Linked DNA regions of Homo sapiens. The protein of the gene in region 3 purifies or fractionates together with the protein of the main gene of each other region. This does not show direct contact. Each region holds a gene or a part of one and is shown on either strand. Other genes may lie near its edges.

What was found.
Region 1: the proteins of TNFSF8 (region 3) and DCBLD1 purify together in Homo sapiens (co-immunoprecipitation; 3 studies listed by BioGRID and IntAct, with this or other methods). This does not show direct contact.
Region 2: the proteins of TNFSF8 (region 3) and GATB purify together in Homo sapiens (affinity purification with mass spectrometry; 2 studies listed by BioGRID and IntAct, with this or other methods). This does not show direct contact.
Region 4: the proteins of TNFSF8 (region 3) and ITM2C purify together in Homo sapiens (co-immunoprecipitation; 2 studies listed by BioGRID and IntAct, with this or other methods). This does not show direct contact.

The regions. Positions count from the first base shown.
Region 1 is NC_000006.12:117,541,627-117,545,238, reverse strand, and holds part of DCBLD1 (discoidin, CUB and LCCL domain-containing protein 1 isoform 1 precursor), read right to left. Parts: intron 2,116-3,612; coding exon 2,028-2,115; intron 712-2,027; coding exon 662-711; intron 1-661.
Region 2 is NC_000004.12:151,701,943-151,705,554, forward strand, and holds part of GATB (glutamyl-tRNA(Gln) amidotransferase subunit B, mitochondrial isoform 1 precursor), read right to left. Parts: intron 3,328-3,612; coding exon 3,243-3,327; intron 1,954-3,242; coding exon 1,909-1,953; intron 1-1,908. UniProt on the Homo sapiens protein: Allows the formation of correctly charged Gln-tRNA(Gln) through the transamidation of misacylated Glu-tRNA(Gln) in the mitochondria. The reaction takes place in the presence of glutamine and ATP through an activated gamma-phospho-Glu-tRNA(Gln).
Region 3 is NC_000009.12:114,917,055-114,920,666, forward strand, and holds part of TNFSF8 (tumor necrosis factor ligand superfamily member 8), read right to left. Parts: intron 1,085-3,612; coding exon 1,042-1,084; intron 1-1,041.
Region 4 is NC_000002.12:230,871,395-230,875,006, reverse strand, and holds part of ITM2C (integral membrane protein 2C), read right to left. Parts: intron 1,591-3,612; coding exon 1,450-1,590; intron 1-1,449. UniProt on the Homo sapiens protein: Negative regulator of amyloid-beta peptide production. May inhibit the processing of APP by blocking its access to alpha- and beta-secretase.

The DNA of each region.
Region 1 (3,612 bases), on a different chromosome or scaffold from region 3:
CAGATTCTCCCTTTGTGAGATCATCTGGGTATGGTCTCCGACAATCTGCACTGGCATGGCATCTGTGAGGCAGAGGAGACACTGCAGCTGGTGTTTAGACCCTGGGGAGGTGGAGTCTCAAATGGTCCCTGAGCTTTCTCAGGGGTCCTGCCCCACTGCCCTCTCTCTCTGGACCATGGCTAACTCATTGCTTGGGCACCTGTGTCTGGGAAAGTGAGAAAAAGACCAGACGGGGCTGGTGTGCAGGATTATCTGAAACCTGCACACCAGCCCTGCCTGGTCTTTTTCTCACTTTCTCAGGGTGGAAAGTACAGCACAGGCCTGCAGATGCTAACAACACGGGCCTACTTCAGTTCACTGATAAGGCTTTTGTCATACCTCCTTGATGGCAGACAGTGTCGTGGCCTAAACTCCAGTGGCCAAGAAAAAAGGATGTTGACAAATGATAGGGGATGACATTGAACAAAAGTAAAGTGGCCATTAAAATAAAGAGACAGAACACAATAAATTTCTTCCTTATAGATATGCTACTTTAAAGGCTACAGGGCTTATGTCTTTTAACCAAATAAATGTGGGCCACTGGCCTCCTTATGCTTTCAATCAGCAGATCCTGTCCCTTCCTCAAAGACAGATAAAATTGTAGATAGAGTTTTCAACCAACCTGTTTTCTGAGCCTCTGCTGATCCATACGGACTTCCTTTCTTCTTCTTCCTATCAAGACAAAAAGTCCTACTGAATATTTATAAGCCAATGTATCTGCCTCTCTCTCCCTATATAACATAAGGATCATAATAGTACTTACCTCATAGGGTTGATGTGAGAATTAAATGAGATGGCAGCTGCCATGTGCTTTAGAAAATCATACAAATATGTAGAATTATCTATAAATTTATCTCATTTATAAGAAAGGTCACAAGATTTCACTAGAAGAATATATACTAATCTTATTTTGCATATTAGAAATCAGTGCCTTATTAAGTTTATCACTAGCTCATGCAGTCATCCTGAAGCAATTCCTCATGACCACATGGTCTCACTTCATCTCTACTATACTCCAGTCCAAAACTGTGGGTGTCTTTAGAAGCATTTCATACAAGCACATTACACTAAGGCATGCTTTAACTTATGAATATCTACCTGAACCAGAGACTTTTGTACCTTCTCTCATGATGGCAGAAACTATTCTTCATTCTATTTGTACTAATATACACATTATAGATTCTGAAGTTGCTTAAAATATAAGAAGAGAAAACTTCAGAATACTTTCCATTTTTTGTTTAGATCCAACATCTAACATTTGTCAAAATAAACATGGATCTCAGGGTTCTGGAAGAGATTCAGAATTCATCTGGGTAAACTATATTTTATACATAAGGAAACAGGCTTGGGGAGGCTGAGTTACGGGGCAGCTTGGTGATACCCCAAGCAGCCTATTTAATATTCCTTTTACTCTTCAGGGAGGAGAAGCACAGATACTTCTAAAGCAATATATCAATTTCAGGATACTTCAACAATACTCAAAGGTTAAGTCTTTACCAAAGGTCTCTAAATGACAAGAACTGCTTATAAAGTAATACATGGTGGGGTGCGGTGGCTCATGCCTATAATCCCAGTGCTTTGGGAGGATCAAATGAGACCAGAAGTTTGAGACCAGCCTGGGTGAGAAAGCAAGATCCCATCTCTACAAAACATAAAAAAATTAGCTGGGCATGGTGGCACATGCTTGTAATCCTAACTACTCAGGAGGTTGAGGCAGGGGGTTTGCTTGAGCCCAGGAGTTTGAGCAATCTCACCACTGCACTCCAGCCTGGGAGACACAGGGAGACCCTGTCTATAAAAAAAGATTAATAAAGTAATACTCGATCATTTCTACTTTTATCTAACTTGTTTGTAAAATATAAGTTAACATTTTATTTTGAAAGAAGCCATGCTGCTTTTGTACATATGCATTTCTGAAGAATAAACTTTTTGGTTTTTTATTGTTCGCATAATTAGAGAAGAAATTTAAACATGTAAAGTCACCATACTTTCTAAAGGCTGCAAAGATCCCCATTCCAGCAAACACCAGGACAACAAGGAGCACCAATGGAATAGCCACCGTTGTAATGTTTATTCCTAAAGAAGACGGAAAGCCATCACGTTACAACATAAATGACCAACAACCACTTTTCATGATTTAAAACTGAACATGGAATTGAAAAGTCTTTAAGCATTTAATATAGGGGGAAAATGAATACATGTTAGGCATTTACTGATATTGGAAAGCAAAAAGAAAGGATTCAAAATCCTGGCTAAAGTTTGGGAAAGTAAAATTTCTCCCCCAGCCCCCCAGAGACAGTTTCCAATGTTCCTCAGGGACTAACAGGCACACTGGGCTTGTTGCTTGGCCCATATTAAACTCCAAAAATCTGAAATGAGGGGAGAGTTTAACCCCTCCCCCACCCCTCAGGTGAGAACTATTTAGACAGGTAAATGATTTAAGCACAGTGTGGAGCTCCTACTTTGGCTCAAGCAACACATTTCCCCAGATGGCAGGCGGGTTTGGACCTGTACCATAACAATAGTCTGGAAAACTGGGATCCTCGTTACAGAGCTCTGGGGCTGCGGACTGAGAGGAAGTGCAGCCTGATGACCTAAAACTGCATTTCCACTATGTTGCATGAAACACCACATCATGTTTTCCTGCAACTCTTTCTGCTCTAAAAAAAGGACACTTTGACAGCCACCAAGGCAGGCCCCAAGTTTGTAGAAAATACACAAAGTAAAGGAAAAATATTTGCTCTTCATCTTTCTCTTCTGTGATCCCTGGGAAGAAAATAAAGGGATGCTTAAGAGTGGAAAAATGCAATTCATGAAGAAGGGGAAAAGGGATTTAGATGAAAACCAAATTTGTGTATAAGTAACAGAAGTGTTATTATTACTTCTTTTTCTTTTTTTTTTTTTTTAAGAGATGGAGTCTCGCTCTGTCACCCAGGCTGGAGTGCAGTGGTGTGATCTCGGCTTGGGCAACCTTCGCCTTCTGGGTTCAAGCAATTCTCCTGCCTCAGCCTCCCGAGTAGCTGGGACTACAGGCGCATGCTGCCACGCCCAGCTAATTTTTTGTATTTTATTAGAGACGGGGTTTCACCATGTTGCCCGGGCTGGTCTCGGACTCCTGAGCTCAGGCAATCCGCCCGCCTCGGCCTCCCAAAGTGCTAGGATTACAGGCATGAGCCAATGTGCCCGGTAGCGGTGTTATTTTTAAGAGTGAAAATTTGGGGAAAATCAAATAACTTAAAGCATCCAACAGCAGGGGAATGGTCAAGTAAATAATGGTTTATCCATGTGAAAAAATACTATAAAGACATTAATAATTGGGGTTTTCAACCTTCCAATAACATTGGAAAATGCTCATAATACAATGTTAAATGAAAAATATATGCTACAGAACAGAATAATATGATATGCTACCATTTTTGTCTTAAAGTTAGAAACATAAATATAGTTGACTAGAAACAGTGAGATTTGGTGATTATCTACGGATACTGATTTATGACTAATTTTTGTTTTCTTATTTGTGTTTTTCTAATCTTTCCAAATTCTTATAAAATTGATATGCAAATTATTTTATAT
Region 2 (3,612 bases), on a different chromosome or scaffold from region 3:
ATAGGCCATGTGGAGTAGCCTACTGCTCCAAGGCTACTGAGTGTCCCAAATCCTGCAGGCAACTGTAACACAATGGCATTGGTGTATCTAAGCATGTCTGAACAAGAAAGGGACGGTAAAAATGCCATATGACAATCTTATGGGACTCCTGTAGCATACGTAATCCACTGTTGACAGAAACATCCATATGTATGCAGGACTATGTCTTCATAAAGACACAGGCTGGAAAAAACAGGACCAAATGAGAGCAATTTGCTTATTAGAAGGAAAGATGACTTTCCCCCCATTTCAACATTTCTACTATTTTTAGCAGCATTTACATAAATAAAAAATGAAAGGAAAAAAATTTACCCTTGAGAAATAGAAGAAATGAATAGATTTTGCCTAAACAAAATGTGACAGCTGGAGAAGAGGGAGGGAGGGATGAAGAGGTGGAGCACAGGGCATGCAGTGGAACTTCTCAGTGTGACACGATGGTGGATGCATGTCATTGTGCATATGTCAAAACCCACGCAATGTACCACACAAACAAGGAACCCTAGTGTAAACCATGGACTCTAGCCAATAAGGAAGTGTGATTGGTTTCATCATTGTAACAAATGAGCATCTTGCATTACTGTGGCACATTAACAGGAGACTCTGGGGGGAGAGTGGGGAGCGGGAGTATGTGAGAACTCTGGACGTTCCATTCAATTTTATTGTAAAGCTAAAACTGCTCTAAAAAATGAAGGGAATTAATTTTTTTAAGTGTCAAAGCTGCACCATTGCATGTAATCTTATGAAACAAGATGTCCCTCCCTCTGTTCTCGTCCAGCACTAATGGTTACTCTCTGCCCATTTTTGTCAAAGGGCTTATGTAGAAAAAGCAGGGTATTCAGAAGAAGTGGTGGTTTGGAGGGAATGGATTCGAAGCACACGCTACCCATCGGCTCACTGCCAGATCTCTTCTGTGAGTTAGTCTGGCTTCTGAGGGCAAGAGGAAACCCAGGGGAAGCTTCCTGCAGCTCACTATCATTTGAGGCATCATGCTGAAGCCACGGGCGGATGGAAAGCCGGACTCCACACTCAGGGGAAGGCGCACCAACAGGGGAGGGAGCAACACTCAGGAATAAAGTGGGCCCCTGGGAGAACAGACTCACCCGGGAAGTTCACGGTTAATTAAAATAATTTTGACTCTAGCAGACAGACAATGGGAGTTCTTGGGGTGAGGTTCATGCTAAGCGTTTATGAGTTTCTTCTTTCCCACATAAACATGCAAATTTTGATCCTCATTGATAATAGCTACATTTGCATCTTTCTGCCCTTCACAAAGGAAAGGTGGCCGATCTCACAACTTTGTTGCTTAAAACTTCAACCTGCTAAACTCAATGAGAAAAAAATAAAAGTTTCAATTATCTTATGCCTGTTCTTAGCATTTGCTTTATTTGTGGGTCTCATATTAAGTAGTTCAACTTAATTTATCATGAAATAGCATCATATGAGGTTCAAGGGAACTACCATCAACATACGCTATCAACATCTCTTTTCTCATTTCTTCTCAAGGAGCTTCATTCAGCGTATTACTGAATCAGTTACTGAACATTAGAATAAGAACAGCCTAGGCCCCAACCTCTACAGCCATCCTCCTAGCTCAACTATGACAACTTTGACACAGCAGTGGATGAACAAGTTCTTCCAAAAGCTGAATCAGTCAAACAAGGCACCAGATCTGAGGCTACCAAATCAAGAAACTAGTACTTCTCTCGGTATGCATATCAAAGAGGAAGTCTAGATGTCCCATCATGTTACAACAATGACAAAAAGTGGTTTCTAAAAATTGTTCAGGATCATTATGTTGAACTTTAAATGAACTTGAAATACGCCCCAGCCCCCGATATATAGCGGTATTTTGCCATAAGGAGTAACCACCTGTAGTCCTGTTTTCCTTCTTTGTCTCTCATTGACATGGTGCACCTGCAATAGTTAAATAAGAAAACATTAAACATTGAAAGCAGCACTGGCCAGCCTATATGTGGGGAAGGGCTCCCCTACCAATAAGGGGCACAGGCAAAATCAAACTCTGTGGACTTCCATGGGGAAACCTTAAATGAATACATTCAAAAAACAATCATAAAGAAAGCGAAATGTACAGAATGATCTTTTTTTTTTTTTTTTAAAGGAAATGACTTCAATGTAGCCATCTTTCAGCCAGCTCAAACTCGGCTTTTGAGCTTTTTTCAGTATTCTGCTTTAAGTATACAATGCTCAAAATTCTGAGTGAGAAAATTAAGGCCCAAGTTATCTAAACAAAAATAAGGCATCTCTACAACCAGGTCTTCACTCTGTTCCGCCTCTAGCTTCAGCTGGGAAAGATCTGATAGATTAAGGAAGTAAAAATTCTTGCCACAAGGCAGGTAAGCTGGAAGCAGAGAAGGAAAGGGCCTAAAACGAAGCCCTTGGGCACAGTCTGGGTCACTTCAAGCCTCCTGGCAGCCCTAGGGTATATTATATCCCTATAGGGTACAGTACTTTTCTTTTTTTTTTTTCTTTGAGACGGAGTCTTGCTCTGTCGCCCAGGCTGGAGTGCAGTGGCACTATCTCGGCTCACTGCAAGCTCCGCCTCCTGGGTTTACGCCATTCTCCTGCCTCAGCCTCCCGAGTAGCTGGCACTACAGGCGCCCGCCACCACACCTGGCTAATTTTTTGTATTTTTAGTAGAGACGGGGTTTCACCATGTTAGCCAGGATGGTCTCGATCTCCTGACCTCGTGATCCGCCCGCCTCGGCCTCCCAAAGTGCTGGGATTACAGGCGTGAGCCACGGCGCCTGGCCTTCTTTTTTGTTTTTGAGAGGAGTCTCGCTCTGTCGCCCAGGCTGGAGTGCGGTGGCAACATCTCAGCTCACTGCAAGCGCCGCCTCCCGGGTTCATGCCATTCTCCTGCCTCAGCCTCCCAAATAGCTGGGACTACAGGCACCCATCACCATGCCCGGCTAATTTTTTGTATTTTTTTAGTAGAGACAGGATTTCACCATGTTAGCCAGGATGGTCTCGATCTCCCGACCTCGTGATCTGCCCATTGCCTCCCAAAGTGCTGGGATTACAGGCATGAAGGGTACAGTACTTTTCTAATTGTACTAATGAGGAAACCTAAAAGTGGAGACGCTACGTGCCTCCTTCAAGGTCACATGGCTGGTCAGTGGCTGAGCCCAGCCCTCTCGCACCACCCCCGGCTGTGGTCAGGACGCTCAGCAATGCGAACTCACCCCAGCTTGTGATGAAATGAGCGTGTTTCGTTCAGAATTTCACCTCCATTCTCAAGTTCATTGATTTGCCTCTGAATTTCATAGTCTAGGAAAAACACACTAATTTAGCATCATATTTTGATTATACCTTTCATCCAGTCAAGCAATAATTAGAAACAACCTTTCTCAATCTCTAAGTTAAAAAAAAAAAAAATCAAGAAGATTGTTTATAATAATCCTTCCCTTACACACTATATTTCCTTCTCACTGCCATCGTAGAATATTGGTGTTGGAAAGGGCCTTAGGAAGGCAGGCTCACTCCGTGTTGAGACAATTCAGGTTCAGAGAGATTAAGCAACCCCATGCAGATGACATGACTTGGCAGAAGTGG
Region 3 (3,612 bases):
AAGTCTCTGGGTGATAAACCACAGGAAAGGCATGGGCAAGGGAAACTTGAAGGACACTCCAAGTGTGATGCTGTGAGTGTGAGGAGCTGTGTCCAGTCATCTGTGTCCTCTGGTCTCAAGGACACTCTTGTGCCACTACCCTGGTGCCTACATTAACTCACTTCCTTACTTTTTGCTCTGAGCTTTCTGGCTATCCAGCTGTGTTTGCCATCTAGGTTCTAAAGGTTACAGGACTGAGATGGGAGTTGGTGTTCTTGGGCAGAAAAGACACTGTATCAGAGATGAGGACATCTTTCTGGGTTCTAGGCTTGGCTTTGTATGACCTTGGACGAGATACTTCACTTTCCCTCTCTGGGTCTTCCTTTTCCTTCTCTGAGCAATAAAAACATTAATCAGGTCATCTGAAAATTTCTCATCATCGATGTTAACTGAACTCGGCATATCATCTCTCTGAGGCTAGTAGAGACGACGTGTTAATTAGTGACTTCAATGATTGGAAATATAGGAGTGAGGAGGAAGTCTGTTTTCACAAGTCCTTGACTTCATTATGCATTTTAGCTATTACTAGTTATTTAATGATTACTATGTGCTGGTTGCCATGCCAAGCAATTTACAGATGAGATCTGAATGGCTTCTCCAATACCTTGATGAGGTGAGTATTATTATTATTCCCATTTAACAGATGAGGAGTTGAGGCTCCCCAGTGGGAAGTCAAGCCAAGATTCATTCCCCCATTTATCTGATTTCAGGTTTCAAGCATTTAACACAACACTGCCTTGCAGTCCTGCCTATGCCAGAGGTAGAATTTTCATTAGTGGGAGTGTCAAGAGCTGGTGGGAGACTTGTGGGGATGAGTTCAGGAGCTGCTAAGATGAATTCAGGTGCATCAGCTCAGTCCTGAACAGCCCTTGCCTCCACCCCTACCCACTTTACTGTTGGGTCATGTCATAGAGTTGTTTCTGGTTGATAATCAGGTTTCACACTTTATGGCATTTATCTAGATGACTTACTACACATTTACACCTAATTCCAAGATCTTACCTCCTTTGAGGGGGACGTTGTCAGGTGAGTTGGGAATGGAGTCCTGGAAGAAAAGAAAGAAAAAAGCAGCATGAGGTGTGACATTCAGTTGAAACAACTTTTTTTTTTCTTTTTCATTTTGTTGTCCTTAAAGTACTGTGCAATTTACAATTCATCCTCCACCTGAATTTTAAAAATTAATTCACTGATGTAGTTTCCAATGGGCTTTCTATCCATTTGTTTGACAATCTATTAGAAATGCAAGATGAGGATTACTGTCCCCGTTCCACAGGCAAGAGACACGGGGTTGAGTGAGATAAAATGACTTGCCTAGGGCCACATAGTTAATTTATAGAAGATCAGGGACCAGAGCTGGGACTTTTTTTTTTTTTTTAGACAAAGTTTTACTCTGTCACCCATGCTGGAGTGCAGTGGTATGATCATGGGTCACTGCAGCTTCATCCTCCTGAGTTCAAGCGATCCTCTTGCCTCAGCTTCCTGAGTAGCTGGGAGTACAGGTGCACACCACTACACTCAGCTAATTAAAAAAAGGAGTCTTGCTCTGTTGCCAGGCTGGAGTGCAGTGGCACTATCTTGGCTCACTGCAACCTCCGCCTCCCAGTTCAGGTGATTCTCCTGCCTCAGTCTCCAGAGTAGCTGGGACTACAGGCACCCACCACCACACCCAGCTAAGTTTTGTATTTTTAGTAGACACAGGGTTTCACCATATTGGCCAGGTTGGTCTCGAACTCCTGACCTTGTGGTCCACCCGCCTCAGCCTCCCAAAGTGCTGGGATTACAGGTGTGAGCTATCACACTCGGCTAGAGCCAGGACTCAACTCCCAATCTGGTGCTTTTCCCCCCTCCATATGTTTGGGTGTTTTTTTCTTTTTTTTTCCTTCTGGTCAACATGAGAATAATCAAGTATATCATAAAAGTAGATGTGTTTTTTTTTTTTCCATGTTTGATTCATCTGTGAACGTATGTTGTAAACATACCTGGGAAGGTACATCTCTATGTCTCCTGTGGTTGGAAATTCTGAATTAATTGTGTGTTTATATGCCAAGCATTGTGAGGACACCATACATAATTAAATTGGGTCCCCATCCTTATGGATTTATTACAAGTTTATATTTAAATATACAAATATGTATACACATGTAGTATACATACAAATGCATATTATATATTTAAACATTTACATAGTATATTATTTATTCTGTAATAAATATATACATAAATATTTACACAAATAAGAGGTTGATAGAAACAGATTGTCTTTTGAAGGAGGGAATCCTGGGCTGGGGATTGAAGGTGACTAAAGGGAGGTTCTAGTTCAAGGACTCTCAACAAGGAGTTAACAGAAGCAGAGAGGCACAGTTCTTTTCCCCTAATAAATTCTTCAGACACTAAGTTTCACACCCTGATTGTCCCTCCCCTTTCTCTCCAGCCATGGAGACACCCATACAATATTCTGCCAATAAGGAATGAAGTATTTTATTCATCTTTTGACCTGCCCAGGTTGGAATCTCCTGTATTGCATTGAATTAAAATATTAGTAAAGACCTAGAGAGGTGTGAGCGTGTGTATGCGAAAAAACCAACTTCCTAACCTCTACCAAAGCAAGAAATTAGCAGCCGCCCACAGCTTATTTTCTTAGTGTTCTGTATGAACACTAGGACCATCTGGAGTTCCCCTATTATTGTAACATTTCCCTGGGAGGTCTGTCATTTGCCTTCCGCTGAAAGCTTGTTTTCTTATGAATGGATCTCTTCTCTAGTGCAAGAGGTTGGTAGTGAGTCAAGGAGGTCTCCTGAAGGCAAAGCCCTGGCACAGCACCAATCTGGAGATGGGGGAAGTCAGCTTAAACATTTGGGCCCTACCTTCTCAGGGGAAGGGAGGCAAACTTGTCCTGGAAGGCCCTTCCTACTGTAACAGTCTACGACTTTGTTGCCTTAGTTGAAAGCTTTTAACCTAACAAAGCTAAGTTTTTGTAGTCTTTCAGTTATGCATGCAGTTTGCAGGAAAACTTGATATCACAAAATTCCCCTTTATGTTGCCCTTGTGAGACAACACACAACATTTTAAAATTTAATAAACAACTTACAACTTACTGCCAAGCGTGACCATTGATTAGCATGATGTGCAAATGCACTAAGAAAAATATCTGCATTGAAATGTCTTACCACAATCATCAAATTCATCAAGCTGCCCAGGGACATATACAGGGACAGTGAGAGAGGCTAGAATAGCAAACCTGGTACAGCCATCATTGCAGAGGCTGCTAGCAGTTCGGGAAGTCCTAGAGAATCATTCATGCAGCACACCTTGAATGAGCACCTGGTCTGTGGTAGGAACTACGTTAGTCACTAAAAGACATCCTATGGATTTTATGCTTTAGTCATTAAGGCAGCCATTTAAAAAATATAAATAAATGTGTAATTAGAATTGCAGGTTGTGGCAAGAGCTATGGAGGAAAAGAATCATAGTGCTTTAAGGTAGTGCTGTTAGAACTTCAATGTGCATATGAATCACCTGGGAGTCTCGTTAAAATGCAAATTCTGATTCTGCAGATTTGGGGGGAGTTTAACA
Region 4 (3,612 bases), on a different chromosome or scaffold from region 3:
TGCCCCTATCACGGTTACCTCCACATCCAGCCTCGGACAAGTGCCATCGCCCTTCCTGGATATCCCTGACCCCTGTCTTGGAGAAACCTTGACAGACACTGTGTCTGGTGGGCCAGTCCAGTCACTCCATCAGTAAGGGAGGCCAGGCAGCCTGGTGTGATCCCATCAACTGAATGGCCGGGCGGGCCAGTCTGCCCACTCTTACTTCTGGAGGGGGCTCCTGGAGGGGCCTGTAGATACATGCTTGGGACTGCCTGGCCTGGGATCGGCAGGATTCCACCGTCTGTTTGATTCAGTGCAAGTTCTCCAGGGAGGATGCGTCATCGCAGCATGGGGGGCTCCTGTGGGCTGTGCGGGGATGAGAGCCCAGGGAAGGTGAGGCTCCGGGGCTGCATCCCACAGTGGCTGGACACCCCGAATACTGTCCCAGGGCACAGACCCAGGGGCTGCTGGGAGGTGTCCACACAACGAATTGGGGTGTGGGGAGAAGGGTGTGAGTCGAGGGTGGAACAGAGGGGACCAGGAAATGCTGGCCCAGGTCCTAGGGTAGGGCCACAACAGGAAGAGGCCTGTGGGAAGGTCCCACACAGGACCCTGGAACGAGGGGGACGCAGGCCATGGAGGGAGTGGGGCGGGGCAGGGGGATGCTGCACAGAAAGGAAGGTGATGGGTGTATGTGAGCTGAGCTTTCAAGGGGAAAGCCCCGTGAATGCAAACTCTTCAGCAATTTCCATCGTGGAAAAACTGGGGGACAACAAAGTTAAACGCTTAGGAGTGGGAGGTCACTTGGGTCATAAATGACTGGCAAGTCCCACCTCTTTGTCACCCTGAGGTTCTCTGTGAGTTGTACGTAGGTTTATCCTTTTAATTTACCTACTTTCATTTCCAAGCACACAGCGACACTCCCTCCCTCCCAGGTCTGGGTTGGCCCAGCTTTGTGCCCAGGTCCCCCGGGGAGGGGGATGATAGTTGGCAGCAAGGACACACTCCTGCTTCTGGAAGGAGGTGGTGGAGACTCTCTGTACCCACCCCTCTCCCTCTCTTGTTTGGTAACCCAAATGTCCATGCACAAGCACAGTTAGGTCAGCCTTAAAGCGTGACCTGCAGGTGCAGGGTCTGAGCTGTGGAGGGGGATCACAGTTCCAGTTTCTGCCAGATCTGAGTTTCTGGTGAGAATTCCCCAGGGTGACCCTGTGGGGCGGGCCCAGTGCTGTCACCCGGATTCATGCTTGGCTCCCCAGGACAAGGGGCTAAATGTGGGACTGGCCTGCATCCAAGGAGGCCCCAAGGAGGAGGGGGCACCCCAGTCTTGTGGGCTGGCCGGGCACTCGCTCCCACCTGAGGGCATGTCTGGGGCTTCCTGCTGCCCCCTTGCAGACACTTCCCTCCATGCCTCTCTAGACATGACCCTTTCTCGAGGCCTTGCCCCTACCTGGCCCGGCCCCTCACCTGCGCAAGGAAGAAGTATCTGTAGATGTAGACAGAGGCGAACACGAGGCCCATGAGCAGCACGACCATGCCCATCGACAGGTAGCACACGCCGCCCACTGAGCCCCCCCTCTTGGATCGATGTTGTGGGGGCTGCTCCTCCTGTGGATAGCAATGCTGGGTCAGTGGGGGCCAGGGCCCCTCCCCTGGAAATCCCCCCTTCCCTAAGTCAGGCTTCACCTGCTGGCTGGGCCCGGAGGGAGTCTTGGGGGAAAGGGAGGGAAGGAGATGACACCTAGAAGGGAAAGGAAGGCCCACCAGGGTCACCCGGACTCGTCCTGGCTAAAGAGAAACCGAGACAAACCTCGAAAGAGAAAAGGAGACACACCTCGAAAGAGAAACCAAGACACACCTGGAAGCCACCGAAAGAGATGCAGTGGGTTCAGCAGGTGCATTTTGAGTTATCTGAGCTCTTAGGCCTCTTGCTTATACCAGCCGTGACCGTGGTATATTCTTTCAAACAGAAGATAGGGGATGTGCCGACCTGGCCTCGGTGACTTTAGGGACTTAGAAATCTCTGTAGGAATTGAGACACACCAGGCAGGCTGGGAGCTGCTGCTCTGGACGATGGGGAGCCCGGGAAGGCTTTTGAGCTGGGGAGTGACAAGATCCACTCTAAAACCAAGGTGCAGAGGGTAGACTAAAATGAGGACAATAGGAGGTGGGCAGGCTGTGTAAAGGCTGCTCAACTCCACCAAGGAGGCTGTGACTGATGGGGGCAGGGGCTCCAGGAGCCCCATGGGGTCTGGGCATGGGTGCTTGTCCCCAGCCAGGGAGCTCTAGGCCTGTGATCCACACTGGCCCCCCACAGGCACCGACCGGCAGTCAAGCAGGCTGTTACAAGTGGTGTAACAGCTACAGGATGAAGCCCGGAAGCTTCCATCCACCAGGGAGCTCCTGCCAGGAGAGAAATGTGGCTGTCCGGAAGGCCAGGCTAGAAGGATCCTGGAAAAATCTGCTCTGGGAGCCAGAATTGGGCTCAAGATCATAGCTGCAGGGCTGCCAAGAAGCCAACCTAACCCATCTCCAGGCCACACATGTGTGGGGTGGTGGACGTAGGTGTGTGAGTATAAAATTCAACAAAACTGCTTTACCCAGAGCACTGACGAGAGCCAGCCAGGTGAGCTTGGTCAATTTCCTGTCTCTTCTCCTCCCTACCTCCTATGCCTTCCCCCGGGCCCTTGCTCACCCTTGGAGATAATGCAAAAGCCCCGGGGCCAGTCTCTGCCTCCAATGTTCACCATTTAATCCTTCCTCCGTGGTGTCCACATACGGCCAAGAGTGAGGTTAGAGGTCAGTCCCTGCGGACTGCCGCAGTATTGGGGAGAGGAGGGGATCCAGCCCCAGAGCCTGAAGCTTCTCATTCTGGCTCTGCCACTACCTGCCTGCTTAGCACTTTCTGGGCCTCGGCTTCCCCATCTGCAAAATGAGCAGGTCAGACCAAGTGACCTCTCAGGCCCTTTCCGGCCAGGCGTTCTGGGATGGGAACAGATTTCCTTTCTCCCTTCCCCCTGGAGGGGGGTGGTTCAGGCCTAAGTGACTCAGGACAGGCCCTATCTCTCAGCACAGCACAGGGGTCCTGCCCTGGGGGCGCCTGCTTCGCTCCTCAGGTTTCACCTCCCACCCTTTTAGAGCACAGGGGAGTGTGGGGCCTGGGCCCTGGGGAGCTGAGGGTCTGACCCGCCCTGCTTAGGAAAAGGACAGAAAATGTCTGGAGGACCCCCCCTTCACTGCGGACATGCGTGAGCAGGTCAGCAGGCCCCCAGCATCCTCACCATGGGGTGCCCCTGCCTGTCCTGCACCCTCACACTCAAGTCTGCCCGCAAGGGAGCCTGCTGGGTGGGTGTGGGAGGTCAAACCACTGCCCGCACTGCCTGGCCCATGAGGAGGCCGGGGCCTCTCCCCACCTTGCCCTGCTTTAGGGGTCCCGTGATCATATGGACCACCTGCCCACTGTCATCTCCTCAGCAGCCAGGGGCACTAACCAAGGTCACCAGCAAGTGACGGGCATGGCCACAGTGCACAGGGCCCTCAGGAACAGCTGCTGGCCACAGGGGGTTGGGACTAAATGGCTTTGGTTTTCCAATGGACTCCCGGGAGCAGCAAGAGACGGGGGTGACACCT